4 linked regions of the Homo sapiens genome follow. Changing the gene in region 1 together with any one later gene gives a genetic interaction. Each region holds a gene or a part of one and is shown on either strand. Other genes may lie near its edges.

Evidence for each region.
Region 2: changes in FASN (region 1) and DPH6 together harm fitness less than expected from each alone (positive genetic interaction), as found in Homo sapiens cells (one large-scale study listed by BioGRID).
Region 3: changes in FASN (region 1) and RPS18 together harm fitness less than expected from each alone (positive genetic interaction), as found in Homo sapiens cells (one large-scale study listed by BioGRID).
Region 4: changes in FASN (region 1) and SLC35A2 together harm fitness more than expected from each alone (negative genetic interaction), as found in Homo sapiens cells (one large-scale study listed by BioGRID).

The regions. Positions count from the first base shown.
Region 1 is NC_000017.11:82,091,531-82,095,374, reverse strand, and holds part of FASN (fatty acid synthase), read left to right. Parts: coding exon 1-55; intron 56-1,603; coding exon 1,604-1,777; intron 1,778-1,955; coding exon 1,956-2,156; intron 2,157-2,355; coding exon 2,356-2,478; intron 2,479-2,562; coding exon 2,563-2,678; intron 2,679-2,785; coding exon 2,786-2,920; intron 2,921-3,690; coding exon 3,691-3,844. UniProt on the Homo sapiens protein: Fatty acid synthetase is a multifunctional enzyme that catalyzes the de novo biosynthesis of long-chain saturated fatty acids starting from acetyl-CoA and malonyl-CoA in the presence of NADPH.
Region 2 is NC_000015.10:35,378,666-35,382,165, reverse strand, and holds part of DPH6 (diphthine--ammonia ligase), read left to right. Parts: intron 1-249; coding exon 250-344; intron 345-3,500. UniProt on the Homo sapiens protein: Amidase that may catalyze the last step of diphthamide biosynthesis using ammonium and ATP. Diphthamide biosynthesis consists in the conversion of an L-histidine residue in the translation elongation factor (EEF2) to diphthamide.
Region 3 is NC_000006.12:33,270,615-33,274,874, forward strand, and holds the start of RPS18 (small ribosomal subunit protein uS13), read left to right. Parts: upstream 1-1,460; 5' UTR 1,461-1,505; coding exon 1,506-1,508; intron 1,509-2,013; coding exon 2,014-2,112; intron 2,113-4,260. Other genes in the region: VPS52 (vacuolar protein sorting-associated protein 52 homolog), read right to left, coding at 972-1,061. UniProt on the Homo sapiens protein: Component of the small ribosomal subunit. The ribosome is a large ribonucleoprotein complex responsible for the synthesis of proteins in the cell.
Region 4 is NC_000023.11:48,902,683-48,905,664, reverse strand, and holds the end of SLC35A2 (UDP-galactose translocator), read left to right. Parts: intron 1-182; coding exon 183-919; coding exon of another isoform or gene 920-1,075; exon of another isoform or gene 1,076-2,199; coding exon 2,200-2,227; coding exon of another isoform or gene 2,228-2,301; 3' UTR 2,302-2,482; downstream 2,483-2,982. Other genes in the region: PQBP1 (polyglutamine-binding protein 1), read right to left, coding at 2,581-2,737, 2,870-2,933. UniProt on the Homo sapiens protein: Transports uridine diphosphate galactose (UDP-galactose) from the cytosol into the Golgi apparatus, functioning as an antiporter that exchanges UDP-galactose for UMP.

The sequences.
Region 1 (3,844 bases):
GACCCTCAGCTGCGGCTGCTGCTGGAAGTCACCTATGAAGCCATCGTGGACGGAGGTGGGTCGGGCATTCGCGACTGCTGCGCCGAGGGCTCCTGCTGCTCACGTGGAATAGGCAGTGTTTTCTCTTCTTGGTTCTGGTAGAACCAGGTGCTGGCACCACCTACCCTCCCCGGCTGTGCCCCTGGCCTGGCCAACGGGCTCAGGGAGGTGTGGGCCACGGGGTAGGCCGCAGTTTCCCAACTGCACCCCAGAGGTGTCGCGGGTGTGCCCTGACCTGAGCGTACCAGTCTCCTCGCTTCTGATGTCTGGCTGGTGCTGGGGCCGGGGCCGGGGCTGGAGTGACGAGAGGCAAAGCAGGAGGTTCTTGAGGGGCCCTCCAGGCCCCCACCCCCACCAGCCAAGCAGCGGACAGCACCGGCCCTGCTGTCTCTCCCCTCCCACCCTCCCCACTACCCTTGCCCACGTCCCCCCACCCCAGGCATTTCAACCCTCTCCCGCCAGCCTGGCCCTCGCTCTGACTGGCATTTGACCTCGGACAAGCGCCACGCCGTTTTTTTATTTTTATTTTTATTTATTTATTTATTTTTAAGACGGAGTCTCACTCTGTCACCAGGTTGGAGTGCAGTGGCGCGATCTCAGCTCACTGCAAGCTCTGCCTCCTGGGTTCACACCATTCTCCTGCCTCAGTCTCCTGAGTGGCCGGGACTACAGGCGCCCACCACCACGCCCGGCTAATTTTTGTATTTTTAGTAGAGATGGGGTTTCACCATGTTTGCCAGGATGGTCTCGATCTCTTGACCTCGTGATCCATCCATCTCAGCTTCCCAAAGTGCTGGGATTACAGGCATGAGCCACCACGCCCAGCCATGCCATTTCTTAAGATCCAGGTGCTCCCTCCCCGGGCGGAGAAGGACCTCCTGAGGGGGAGGCTGAGCCCTGGGCTGCCCTTGGGTGTGAGCGGTTCACACACCCACCCACCCTAGGGCAGAGCCAGCCCACCAGGGGCGAGGAGGGGCCCTGCTGGCCGAGAGGTGGAAGCCCTTCTCCTGCGCCCTTCCTGCTGCCAGACCCCACCCCAAGACTAAGGTTATGCTCCCCGGGGGTGACCGGTGTCCCTCTCTCCTTCCCGAGCCTGGACACTTGGCCTTTGTCTCCTCGGTTCCTTATCACGGCCTGTTCTGGTGCAGGCTGCCCTTGGCGCTGGAGAGGCCACTGGCCGACGGGCTCATCAGAGCTGCCGGTGACACCAGGGGCCAAAGGCGTCGCCTGGGGACAATGCTGCCCTCTGTCCTTCCTGGAGCCACTCTGGCCGTGCCTGGTGCCCTCCCCTGGGCCCGCCTGCCCCCTCCGCCTCGTTCCCTCTGTGACCTGGTTCCTGTTCCAGGCCTCACCTGGGCTGGCTGCTGGCCACAGGCTCTGTTCTGGCCCCTCTGCAGGACACCTCACCCTCCTTAGGCCCCTTCCAGGGTCCCACTGGGATGGACCCCCCCTCACCCCAAGCCAGTGAGGCCAAGATGGGACCTTCGCCCCAGAGCCGGGTGGGTGGGTGGGCTGGCTGCGCTGTGGGGCCCGGCCGTGGCACCTTGACCACTGTTTGTGGCAGGCATCAACCCAGATTCACTCCGAGGAACACACACTGGCGTCTGGGTGGGCGTGAGCGGCTCTGAGACCTCGGAGGCCCTGAGCCGAGACCCCGAGACACTCGTGGGCTACAGCATGGTGGGCTGCCAGCGAGCGATGATGGCCAACCGGCTCTCCTTCTTCTTCGACTTCAGAGGTGGGTCCTGCCCAGCCTCCTGCGGAGGTGGGTGGCCTTCAGGTCCCCACATGCTGAGCAGAAACCACGTGGCGTGGGCTCACTCCGTGCAGTGTGTGTCCAGCCTGGTGGCAGGAGGTGTGCTCAGGGGTCTCGTGTGCTCACAGCCCCACCTGAGCCGCAGCACCCTTCCTTGCAGGGCCCAGCATCGCACTGGACACAGCCTGCTCCTCCAGCCTGATGGCCCTGCAGAACGCCTACCAGGCCATCCACAGCGGGCAGTGCCCTGCCGCCATCGTGGGGGGCATCAATGTCCTGCTGAAGCCCAACACCTCCGTGCAGTTCTTGAGGCTGGGGATGCTCAGCCCCGAGGGCACCTGCAAGGCCTTCGACACAGCGGGTGAGTGTGCGGCTGCGCGGCCAGGGCAGGCGGGACAGTGGCACAGGACGGCCCCCCGCACAGTCCCCACGCTGAGCAGGATCCTGCCAGCTCCGGGGATCCCCCACCCAAGCACCCACCCCACACCCCAGAGCTCCTCCTGGTGGGGTGGGGGCCGGCGTGGGGCTGAGCCCCGGGCCTGAGGTGCTGCTCTACCCAGGGAATGGGTACTGCCGCTCGGAGGGTGTGGTGGCCGTCCTGCTGACCAAGAAGTCCCTGGCCCGGCGGGTGTACGCCACCATCCTGAACGCCGGCACCAATACAGATGGCTTCAAGGAGCAAGGTGGGCTCTGCCGGGGTTCCGGGGTGCTGGGGGGCAGGTGGGAGCCGGGGCTGGGGCTGCAGCACTGAGCCGAGCCCTCCGCAGGCGTGACCTTCCCCTCAGGGGATATCCAGGAGCAGCTCATCCGCTCGTTGTACCAGTCGGCCGGAGTGGCCCCTGAGTCATTTGAATACATCGAAGCCCACGGCACAGGCACCAAGGTGATGCCCCCCCCCCCCGCCCCACTCACCACCCCATGAGCCTAACCTACGCCCATGCCTGGAGAGGTGACCTGGCCAGAGCCCCTCACCCCCCATGTTTCCCACAGGTGGGCGACCCCCAGGAGCTGAATGGCATCACCCGAGCCCTGTGCGCCACCCGCCAGGAGCCGCTGCTCATCGGCTCCACCAAGTCCAACATGGGGCACCCGGAGCCAGCCTCGGGGCTGGCAGCCCTGGCCAAGGTAGGTGGGGCTGGGCTTGGGGGTCCCTCAGGCTCCTGCTCCCTGGGACTGGGTTGCGCCATGGCTGGGCACTGCTGCTTTCTCTTTGCCAAGTGGAGGCGGGGGCTTCCCCACCAGGAGCCTCTGTCCCCCGGGCTATGCTGCAGGTCTGAGCAGAGGCACTGAGGCTGACAGCAGGGAGAGCTCGTAGCCAGGCTCGCTGGGCCTTCCCTGGAGGCCTGATGCCCTGCAGAGCGTCTGCCGGACACGGAGCCGAGCTGGAGGAGCCGCTTGGGTGGGAAGAGCGAGGCAGGAGCAGGCCTGGGGGGGTCCACGGCACCATCAGGGTCTCCCGTGTCGCCCACCCGTCCCTACAGCTTCCTGACCCACTAGCAGAGGCCTGGGGACCTTTAGAGAGACCAGGCACAGGAGCCCCAACACCCATGATCACTCACGCCCTCTGCCCCCCAACTTCTGCAGCCTCTGAGATGCAACATCTGGGCCAAGGGGGCCTTAGTGTTCAGGCCACAGCCAGGCTTTGGTGGGTCCACATCAGGCTGGGAGGCAGCAAGGCCGGAAGGGGAGGTCTTGGACCAAGCTGAGGGCAGGGCCATGGCGGCTCAGTCCTCGGACCCCTGTGCCATGGCAGAATTAGGTTGGGGACAGGAAGTGCATCGGAGAGGGCCCTGGAACCCTGGCCCCACATGAGAGTCTCGGGGAGGTGCCTGCCCCCAGCTCAGGCAGTGGTAGAGGGAGTGGGGCGGCTGCCCATCCACCACGTACCCCCGCAGGTGCTGCTGTCCCTGGAGCACGGGCTCTGGGCCCCCAACCTGCACTTCCATAGCCCCAACCCTGAGATCCCAGCGCTGTTGGATGGGCGGCTGCAGGTGGTGGACCAGCCCCTGCCCGTCCGTGGCGGCAACGTGGGCATCAACTCCTTTGGCT
Region 2 (3,500 bases), on another chromosome or scaffold:
ACGCGCCTGGCCTCTTAATGTTATTTTTTTTTAAGAGTTTTGGCATTCTTGGGGATCCTATGCCTTATGATAACATTTTTGAAATGGCTTTAAACAGGTTTTAAGCAGAAATATAATTAATTTTCCTTACCTTGCAAACTATTTTGGAATTAAAGTTTTTTGTATGGATTTTTTAGTACCAGATAAGAGAGCATTTATGCTGTCTAATTTTAAACTTCTTTCTTGTTTTTTGTGTTTTCCTATTTTCAGCTTTCTAAGAAGTATGGAGTACATGTTTGTGGAGAAGGTGGAGAGTATGAAACTTTCACTTTGGATTGCCCTCTATTTAAGAAGAAAATAATTGTGTAAGATATCATTTCAGCATTTTCTTTTTTTCCCATAAATTTAAGTGATGGAAGCAACTGAACATTAAGCTTGAGGCAACTTTTGTTGGGAAAAATAGAACATGTCTTCTAAGTTCACAAACACTCAATTTGTTTAATACCAGTGAAGTTATCTGAATATCTAAATCAATACCTGACAAGACGAGGCCTTCATAGAAGGCTATAAACTTTTTAGACATTGCACTTTCGTTTACTTGCTGATTATGGCCTGCAGTAAAACTGGTACCTACACACCGACACTTTTATCCTTTCATGAAGTGTGAATTGCCTGTATTATTTATCTTTCATTACAGCTACATTTGATAAACTGCCACATCAGTAGCCTGTGGGTTCCATTAACTCCTTCCTCTTTTTTCTTTTTCTTGGCTTTAACAACTCAGAATGGTAATGTAAACATTTCTCTTCAGTTATTTGGGGTTATTTTTACACATAAACTTTGTTTTTAAATGAATTTAGTTGATGGTGAGTAGTGTGATTTCTTTGCCATAAATTGTTAAAATTAGTGTAGTGAAAAACAGAAACTTTCTTCAGTTTGTTACCTTATCATCCATGCTCTAATTTATGTTGCTCTCTTTATATGCTAAGAGAACACTATCTGCTTTTCTTAAGCCTGTATGCATCATGGAAAAGATTGTCAGAGTTATGCTTGATTGAATGGAAGGCTTCAGTATTTCTAACACTAAGACTTAACCTCTTTGTGCATATTAATAATGAGGGAAGGAGTGATCTAAGAAAATTAAGACAACAACTCTAGGTGGATTTTCTTAAAAAATGCAATTTGTAAAATATGACAAGACATTTTCATTACCATATGCAATATTCATGCACTCTTGCTTTCATATTCTTCTAATTTCTTTTCCATTAATAATCAACATAATCATTATTTATTTGACAAATACTCATCAAGTACCTATTACATCCAAAGTGTTCTCCTGGGCACCACTGATGTTCAAATAGTTTCTGCCTTCAAAGGGGTAGAAAAAGACATCTGTGTGTAATTACGATAAAAGGTGGTAAAAAATAAGTCATAAGTTTATTTATGGGAGAGGACATATTTATTTTGCCCATGATGATCCCAAAACAATTAATGAGTCAACTATTGATAAGTTATTACTTCTATGAAATAATACGTTATATTATTCAAGAAAAACATTTGCAAGCTAGTGTGAAATTATAGTAGAAAATTTAGGATATATTTACTTGTTAATATAGGACTAACCAAATCAGAAAAAAAAAGCACAGCAATAAGTGGAAAACATGCCAAAGAATAATACTTTCTCTATTTGCCAGAAAAATTGAGGTCCCAGAGCACCTGGAAGTCTTTATGGACAACATGGAATTACAAGACATGTACTGCTTTACTCTACATAACCAGAAGATATGTTTATCACAGTATTTTAGACCTAGAATATGAATCCTTTTCAACCTCCTCATTTTGTAGGCAAGGAAACCTAAGCCTGACAGAGACAGTGGCATGAAGGGAATTACTCATGCTGTTAAAGAGAAGATGTCAGGGAAGGTGGTTAGAACCCTCTAGTGCTAAAATGAGCTGTTCAGTGCAAAGTGTGAGTAGAACTCTGCAAGTTGCTGCCCTGCTCTGTAGGAGTTCTTCCTGTAACCAAAGAGATGGACAGGCAAATCAACAATAACTGATAGGTGCTACCACGCAGGTATGTACCTTGTAAACACAAAGGAAGCCCTGTCTTTTCATTGTTACTCATTTATGAGTTAATCACCAATCTAATTCTGATGCTTAAGCATATTCTTTGCTTTTTTTTTTCTTCATAGGCTATGCCTCACTTCAGCTTCATACTTTTCTTTTGTGATACCTTTTCTCTAGATTGCCTTCTCATTTCTGACCACTTTGCTAAATCCTTTCATTTTTATATGCTTTGGCTGCCATTGCCTCCAGTGCTTGTTCTCATACTTATCAGAGCATACATTAGGCTATTTGCTAAATACTGTTGGACTAATTTGTAATTTGTTGTTGTTTATTTTTGTTTATATATGGTATTTCACATACTTTTATGTATTTATTTGTTAGGTTATAACTTGAAGTTATAGGTTGGGAAATATCCTCATTTGGCAGAAAAAGGATATCACTTAATATAAACAAAATCTCCCCTCCTCTTTAAAATTGAAATGTCCTAAGCATACCTGCCTGATATACAATAAATGCGAAGATGTGAGTGAACATGTTTTGTGCATTCTAAAACTGTATGTAAATGAAAGTTATATTATTTAGATATAATCTTCCATATAATACAATTAAAAGATGAGCTTAGTTCCTGTAACTGTTTTTTAACAATTGAGTATTAATAATTCTGGATCCAATCATTTAGAATTCATTTTGGGGACAGATTTTATAACTTCTGTTATATTTGATGTAATAATTGTCTGCCACTATTAGCACGCAACTAATCATTTATTAGGAATCCTACTTCAAACGTCTGATTCAAATGACATTTTATTTTTTACAAAAAAAGAAGACTACCTCTAAGGCGAGAAAAAATAAATTTTACATGCAGACTTATTTGATTATAATTAGATATCTTTTTTGAGGTGAGGGAGGGGCCATGTGGGCCAATGTAATCATGAGGATCCTTAGAAGAAAGAGGCAGAAGGGTCCGAGTCAGAGAACGGGATGTAACAACGGAAGTAGACTCAAGTGACATGGAGCCATGAGCCAAGAAATGTGGGAAGCTTCTACAAGCTAGAAAAAGCAAGGAACAGATTCTCCTCTAAAGTCCCAAGAGAGAATGCAGTTGTACCAATACCTCGGGGGTTTGTTTGTTTGTTTGTTTGTAAATTATACTTTTAAGTTCTAGGGTACATGTGAAGAATGTGTAGGTTTGTTACGTAGGTATACACGTGCCATGGTGGTTTGCTGCAACCATCAACCCATAACCTACATTAGGTATTTCTCCTAATGTTATGCTTCCCCCAGCCCCCCACCCCTGACAGGCCCTGGTGCATGATGTTCCCCTCCCTGTGTCCATGTGTTCTCATTGTTCAACTCCCACTTGTGAGTGAGAACATGCAGTGTTTGGTTTTCTGTTTTTGTGATAGTTTGCTGAGAATGATGGTTTTCAGCTTCATCCTTGTCCCTGAAAGGAC
Region 3 (4,260 bases), on another chromosome or scaffold:
GGAAACCCGTCTAAAGAAAACAAAAAAAGGTAAAAGACAAGACAGTGCAGTGGAGGCCGGACGCAGTGGCTCACGCCTGTAATCCCAGCACTTTGGGAGGCCGAGGTGGGAAGATCACGAGGTCAGGAGATCGAGACCATCCTGGCTAACACAGTGAAACCCCGTCTCTACTAAAAAATACAAAAAATTAGCCGGGCGCGGTGGCGGGCGCCTGTAGTCCCAGCTACTTGGGAGGTTGAGGCAGGAGAATGGCGTGAACCCGGAAGGTGGAGCTTGCAGTGAGCCAAGATCGCGCCACTGCACTCCAGCCTGGGCGACAGAGCAAGACTCCGTCTCAAAAAAAAAAAAAAAAAAAAAAAAGTGCAGTGGAGATGACCGAATGAGGAAAGCTAGGAATTGCAGAGGATAGAGCAGAACTTGCACTTAAATTTAAGACCCTCAGACTCCTGCCATCTTGGGTGTTCTATCACACCTCTGGGGAACCCCAGGCTTTCTAGAAATGTCAAAACACATAGTGTTTACCTGCATGCCAGGTGCAATCTTACACATATTCATCTAATCCTAACGACGATGTATACAATAGGTTCTATCTTCCTCACCTTAAAGGTGTGAGAAATGATGGCACAGAGAAGCTGGTTAACTTGCCCAAGGGCACACAGCGTGTAAGTGGCAGAGATAGAACTCAGGCAGTCTGGCTTCAGAGGCCATGTTCTTAACCTTTACACTATACTACTTCGTGACTCTACCCCAAAATGTGGAGTGAAGTTGAAATTTTGTGCCCCAGAACATGAGTTTCAGCCACTAGGGTCCCGCTCAGGGTCGGGTCTGATCACAGGGAAGGGTACGGGGAGCCAAACAGGTAATATCACGGGTAGCAGCCAAGTTCCCACCCTTGTGCCTAAACCCAGCTCAGGTCTTTCTGAAGCTAGGAGCACCGGAACTACGGAGGAGAAACAGCTCCGCGCTCTCACCAGCGGGCCCTCTTCCTCCTCCATATCTGAGGTCCCAGCCCGCAACACCAGTTCCCGGGCCGCAGCCGCCATGGTCGCAGCGGCGGCCATTCCCCGCAGCCTCACTTCCGGCAACTGTCAGTCCCGGCGAGTCCGTTCCCCGGAGTGGAGCTACAAGTCCCAAAGGGTCTTCCTCAGCGCGAAATCGTTCCCAGATATTTGAGTTAAGTTGTTTGACTCCAGCTGTCCCCTTTCAGCTCTAACCACTTCACCCAACTGCAAATGGAAATATGGAAGTCTGAAACACAAACTAGCCCCGGAACCTTCGCTGTTCTCTTACCTATGAACCTTACGAACTGTAAAGAAAGGCGCACCGGAAGTTGTGGTACCCAAGCCATACTCTCATAAATCCAGCCAGGTCGCGCTGAAACAGTTTCCGGAAGCACTTCTCCTAGATCGCACCGCCTCTTCCTCCTGGAAGCTATATAATGATATCGCGTCACTTCCGCTCTCTCTTCCACAGGAGGCCTACACGCCGCCGCTTGTGCTGCAGCCATGGTAAGACTGGAATCCGTGCCGTGATCCAGCGGCATCGCAGCTCGGGCAAGGAAAGCCGGCTGTCAGGGTTCTGGAAACGTCCTGCCCTGAGGGCCTGCGACTTTCTGTATGGAGCCTTGGATCGCGTCCCTGGAAAGGGACACCAAAGATTTCCAATTCCGGAGAGCGGGCCCGAGGAAGGGTCACTGCTCGGGCGCACGAAAGCTGTCTAAGGCTTGGGCGTATATGGGGAACTCTGGCTTTTGCCACGCACTTTTGGGAATGGGCAGGAGACCTGCTTCCTCTCTCCAGAGGTTGCATTTTCCCAAGCTTGAACGCTTCATGTGCCTACTCTGCAGGACTGAGGAGTTTGCTCTGTGGTGTGAAAACCTAAGGAATGGGGGGCGGGTGTCTTGCCACTTGTGTGACAGGCTTAACCTTTTTGTATGAAGTTCGTTTGCCTTATCGGCCTTACTGTTTGATAGTTTACTGTGTCTGATTTCTTCCCCCGTACTTTTTCAACTAGTCTCTAGTGATCCCTGAAAAGTTCCAGCATATTTTGCGAGTACTCAACACCAACATCGATGGGCGGCGGAAAATAGCCTTTGCCATCACTGCCATTAAGGTAAGTGAAGTAGGGTAAGGAATAGGGAATGTAAATGAGAATTGGGTTGTGAAGACATAAGCAAAAATGAAGCAAGGCTGGGGAGACTTGAGTCTCATCCAGATCACCTTGACTGCTGGATTAAGAAAAGAAAGTGGTTTAGGGAGAGACTGACCCCTTTAGCATTTACCACAGAAAATAAGTGATTAAAGCCAAGATAGTGGTCTAAGGTCAAGCCAAAACATTTCACCTGGGGAAGTGGGGAGGAGGTATGGTTGCTCACCCGAATTCGCTAAGATTTTCCTGAACCACGAGCTTGTGAGATTTCTTCTAGATTCGGTTTCTTTACCCATCCCACCATCATAACAGCAACCCTTCCTGCGAAATTTATATTCCCTGAGAATTGGAGGATTATTGGGCATCTTGAGGGATAAGTAGAAATACCAACAGATAAAAAGTGTGAAGAAGCCTGTAGATGGAGGGTGGAAGAAGTCTGAGTGGGACATTTACTCAGATGAGCCATAATTGACACTCCTTTCCTGTCGAAGTGTGAAGGAGTACATCCATCTTTCTTTGGCTTTTAAGAATCGAATCAATGAATGCAAGAATATTATTTCACTTGAGTATTTCTCTCCACAAACCTAATGAATTCTTGGCTTTCTAGATACATAACGTTCTTTTTTTTTCCCTTAAGTCAGAATGTGTAGTTAGTTGTGGAAATAGCCTACCAGTATGTGTCCATGCGTGCAGGGCTAGGCCTGTCTTCTTGGCTTCTGTTGCATGGTAGGTACTTAGGCGACGTTAGGGAATGGATAGTAGTAGGGATACTGTTGGCTCTGTTGAGGAATTTGTAGAGGGAAATTCCTTCTGTTGGGTGCTCTGTGAAACTAATAAGGCAGTGTGAAATACTGTACTTATTTCAGAGACCGGCTGTGAGGCTTAAGTAGAGGTGCAGCATTCATAAGTGTAATAGAGAATAACCTTCATGGATGTATCTAACTAAAAATTAGAAATCTTATTTCATCTATATCTCTTCCCACACCCATTTTGAAGTAAATCTTTTCACTTGTAAACATATAATTAAATTTGAGGCTTAGTGCAGTGGCTCACTCGGAGGCTGAAGTGGGCGGATCCCCTGAGGTCAGGAGTTCGAGACCAGCCTGGTCAACATGGTGAAACCTCGTCATTTAATTAATAAATTTGAAAGACCCTGCTCTCTTCTGAATCAACCTAATAATTTGACCCTTGGTCATGTTTATTTATTTATCCCGAGACAGAGTCTCACCCCGTCACCCAGGCCGGAGTGCAATGGTGCAATCTTATCTCACTGCAACCTCAGCCTCCCAAGTAGCTGAGATTACAGGCACACGCCCAGCTAATTTTTGTATTTTTAGAAGAGATGGGGTTTCACCATGTTGGTCAAACTGGTCTTAAACTTCTGACCTCAGGTGATCCACCCACCTCAGCCTCCCAAAGTGCTGGGATTATAGGCGTGAGCCACTGCACCCAGCCACATTTATTTTTTGAGACTGTCGCCCAGGCTGGAGTGGCGGAATCACTCTTCACTGCAGCCTCGACCTCCAGGGCTCAAGTCAATCCTCCTACCTCAACTTTCCAAGTAGTTGGGGCTACAGGTGTGCACCACCACATCTGGCTAATCTGGATCTTGCTGTGTTGTCCAGGCTGGTCTTGAACTCCTGGGCTCAGTGATCCTCCAGCCTCAGCCTCCTAAAGTGCTGGGATTACAGGCATATAGGCATGAGCCACGGTGAAGCCAACCCTTGATCTCTTTCTTGCAGATAGGAACTGCCATTTGTTTTAGTTTCCTGGAGCCTACTGTAACAAGTTCATATAAACTAAGCAGAAAATTACTCTTGGCGCTGGAGGCACTTAAGAATCCTACCTTGCCTCTTCCTGTCTTCTGGTGGTTGTCAGTAATCCTTAGTGTTCCTTGGCTTGTAGCTGCATTACTCCAATCTGTTGCTGTCATCTCATGGTCCTCTTCGTGTCTCTCTCATGATTTGTCATTGGATCTAGAGCCCACCCTAATCAAATATAACGTCATTTTACCTAATTATTTCCGTAACGACCTTATTTCCAAATAGGGCCACATTCTGATGTTCTAGTTGGACAAAATGAGGGGCAGGGCTCAGTATTCAGTTCCTCCTT
Region 4 (2,982 bases), on another chromosome or scaffold:
TCAGAACTGTTTTGCTGCAGCTCAGCCAATGGCCAGTGGCTGGCTCCTTTTGCTGTTTTTGCTGTCATACCCCCCACCCTGTCCCTCCATTGTGCCTGGGGGCCCACAGTGGGTGCTGCCCCCCATGTGCACCTGTTGGGGGCCAGGGTCAGCCCTCAGTGCCTTCCACGTGCCACTCGCAGGTGACATACCAGCTGAAGATCCTGACCACAGCGCTGTTCTCCGTGCTCATGCTGAATCGCAGCCTTTCCCGGCTGCAGTGGGCCTCCCTGCTGCTCCTCTTCACTGGCGTCGCCATTGTCCAGGCACAGCAAGCCGGTGGGGGAGGCCCACGGCCACTGGATCAGAACCCTGGGGCAGGCCTGGCAGCCGTCGTGGCCTCCTGTCTCTCCTCCGGCTTCGCAGGTGTCTACTTTGAGAAGATCCTCAAAGGCAGCTCAGGCTCCGTGTGGCTGCGCAACCTGCAACTGGGCCTCTTCGGCACAGCACTGGGCCTGGTGGGGCTCTGGTGGGCTGAGGGTACCGCCGTGGCCACCCGTGGTTTCTTTTTTGGGTACACACCTGCTGTCTGGGGCGTGGTGCTCAACCAGGCCTTCGGCGGGCTACTGGTGGCTGTGGTTGTCAAGTACGCTGACAATATCCTCAAGGGCTTTGCCACCTCCCTGTCCATTGTGCTGTCCACTGTTGCCTCCATTCGCCTCTTTGGCTTCCACGTGGACCCATTATTTGCCCTTGGCGCTGGACTCGTCATTGGTGCTGTCTACCTCTACAGCCTTCCCCGAGGTGCAGCCAAAGCCATAGCCTCTGCCTCTGCCTCCGCCTCCGGGCCCTGCGTTCACCAGCAGCCTCCCGGGCAGCCACCACCACCGCAGCTGTCTTCCCACCGTGGAGACCTCATCACGGAGCCCTTTCTGCCAAAGTCAGTGCTGGTGAAGTGAGGGCTGGCAGCAATGGGGGGACACAAGGGAGGGGGACTGGGGTGGAGGGTGTTGGGCATCTGCAGGACCCAAGTCGCCACCCTCCGGGGCCTGGCTCCTCTGGGTTTGGGAGATGGTCTTTTCTCCCAGGTCACTGAGACTTCTGGAGGGGTGTGGGACTAGAGCTGGGTGTCACGTGAACCCTTCCTGGTAGGGTGACCCCCTTCCCCTGGAGGGGGTTTTAGAGCTGCCGCCTCTGCTCCCTCTAACCTCTTTGGAGGCAGGGTTGGGGGTATTGTCATTCAAGGCCTTTTTTTTGTCTGCTCCCTCCCCGACCCTGTGCCCTCTTCTGGAGGTTTCTCGTCTGGGAGAGTCCCTCCCAGCAGTCCCTCCACCTCCATAAGGACACACTGGACAAAACTCCCGCAGCTCTTCAGGAATGACCGATGCCTACCTGTGGGGTTCAGTTGCCCATAGTTTGAGGCCTTCTCTCCTCCCTTACCACCGCTCTGGATCATGTTACTAGTTCCGTCTTTTGTGTGGCCTTGGGCCAGCTTCCTTGATACCTTGAAGATGGGCTTCTTGTGAGTCCCCAGGGAGAAAGGGACAAGAGCTAAGATTTTTGCATCAGCCCTTCTGGCAGAAGGTGTGGTAGGGGCCATTTGTTTTTTTTAGTGGACTTGGGATTTGTGGTGTAATCATATCATTAATGATCCAGGGTGTGGGAAAAATGGAGGTCCTTGAAGTGGCTGAATCTCATTGTATTTAAGACACTGTCAGTTGCCAGATGTAGGCTTATTTTTGGAGATGTCTAGGAGAGGAAAAAGCTACCAATCATACTCTTGATATCCGTCTGGCTGTGTGAGGCACCCCTACCTCATGGGGGTGTCTTGGGATTGATGAACTGTGGAACCTGCCTCCTGCGCTCCCCAAAGCTTATTAACCCCTTAACTGTATCGGGGCGGGGTGTGTGTGTGCATGGAAGATGCCTGGGCTGTCTTTGCTATATGTAAATAGAGCCATTGGATCTTTATTTTTGATTAATTTGTTCTGATTTTTTGGTTTGTTTTTTAAGGAACTGTAATGAACAAATGTCAGGATATCCAATGCCAAATAAAGATGTTGTATTTATTTAGTCCACGTGTAGCTTTCTGACCAGGTGGGCACCATTACTAACCCCAGGACTACCAGCCTCACCACCGCCGCCCTCACTTGCTCAGGAAACCCGCCTGCCAGCCTAGCCCAGCTTTGTGTTTTTCTTTCCTCCCCATTCCCACCACAGGTTGCTCACCAAGGTGAAGGGTTCCTAGCCGCTGGGATTGAAGACATTGGCCTGGCCTCGTTCTCTCTTCTTGCCCTTGGCCCAGCTGGGACCAAACTCTGATCAGTATTAGGGGTAGAGTGAGGTAGACACTGGACTCCCTGTCCCCACCACCCCTGCCCCACCCAGGGCCAACATGACTAAGCTCTCTCATGACCCACCTCAGCTCAGCCCCCCAGCCCCTGCCAGCTCCACACTATCTCTTAGCTGAGTTTTTGCAAATAAAATGTGTTGTGTATCTTGCCGACTTGGGTTGGGCAGCCTCAAAGGAAGCACTCAGGTATGGTGGGCAGGATCACCAGAAAGCTTTTATTTTAACCCAGGGCCAGGGAGGCCGAAGCTTCAATCCTGCTGCTTGGTTCGGGAGGCCTCTGCATTGGCCCGGAGCACAGCCCCTGGGGATGGATACGGCCGCTGCTGGAAGAGGGGCCCAGCTGCTGTGGTGTCAGCGCCAGTCTTGGCCTCATTCCGCTTGGGGAGTCCTGTTGACCACGTGCCCCTGCCGGTGAAAGAGTCAGGGGATGGGGATGGGTGATGTGGCGGACACAGCCCACCTGGTCCCAATGAGGAATGGAGGAAGGAGGCCGGAGGATGGTGTCCACGTACTGAGTCAAGAGGGGTTGTCACTTACCGGGGGGCGTCTGAGTATGAGCTAGGGTCCATGGGGTCTAACTCTTCATCCTTTCGGCTTACTGCTGTGGAAGTGGCAGGGCAAAGTCTTCAATAGAGGCACCAGGATCCCCT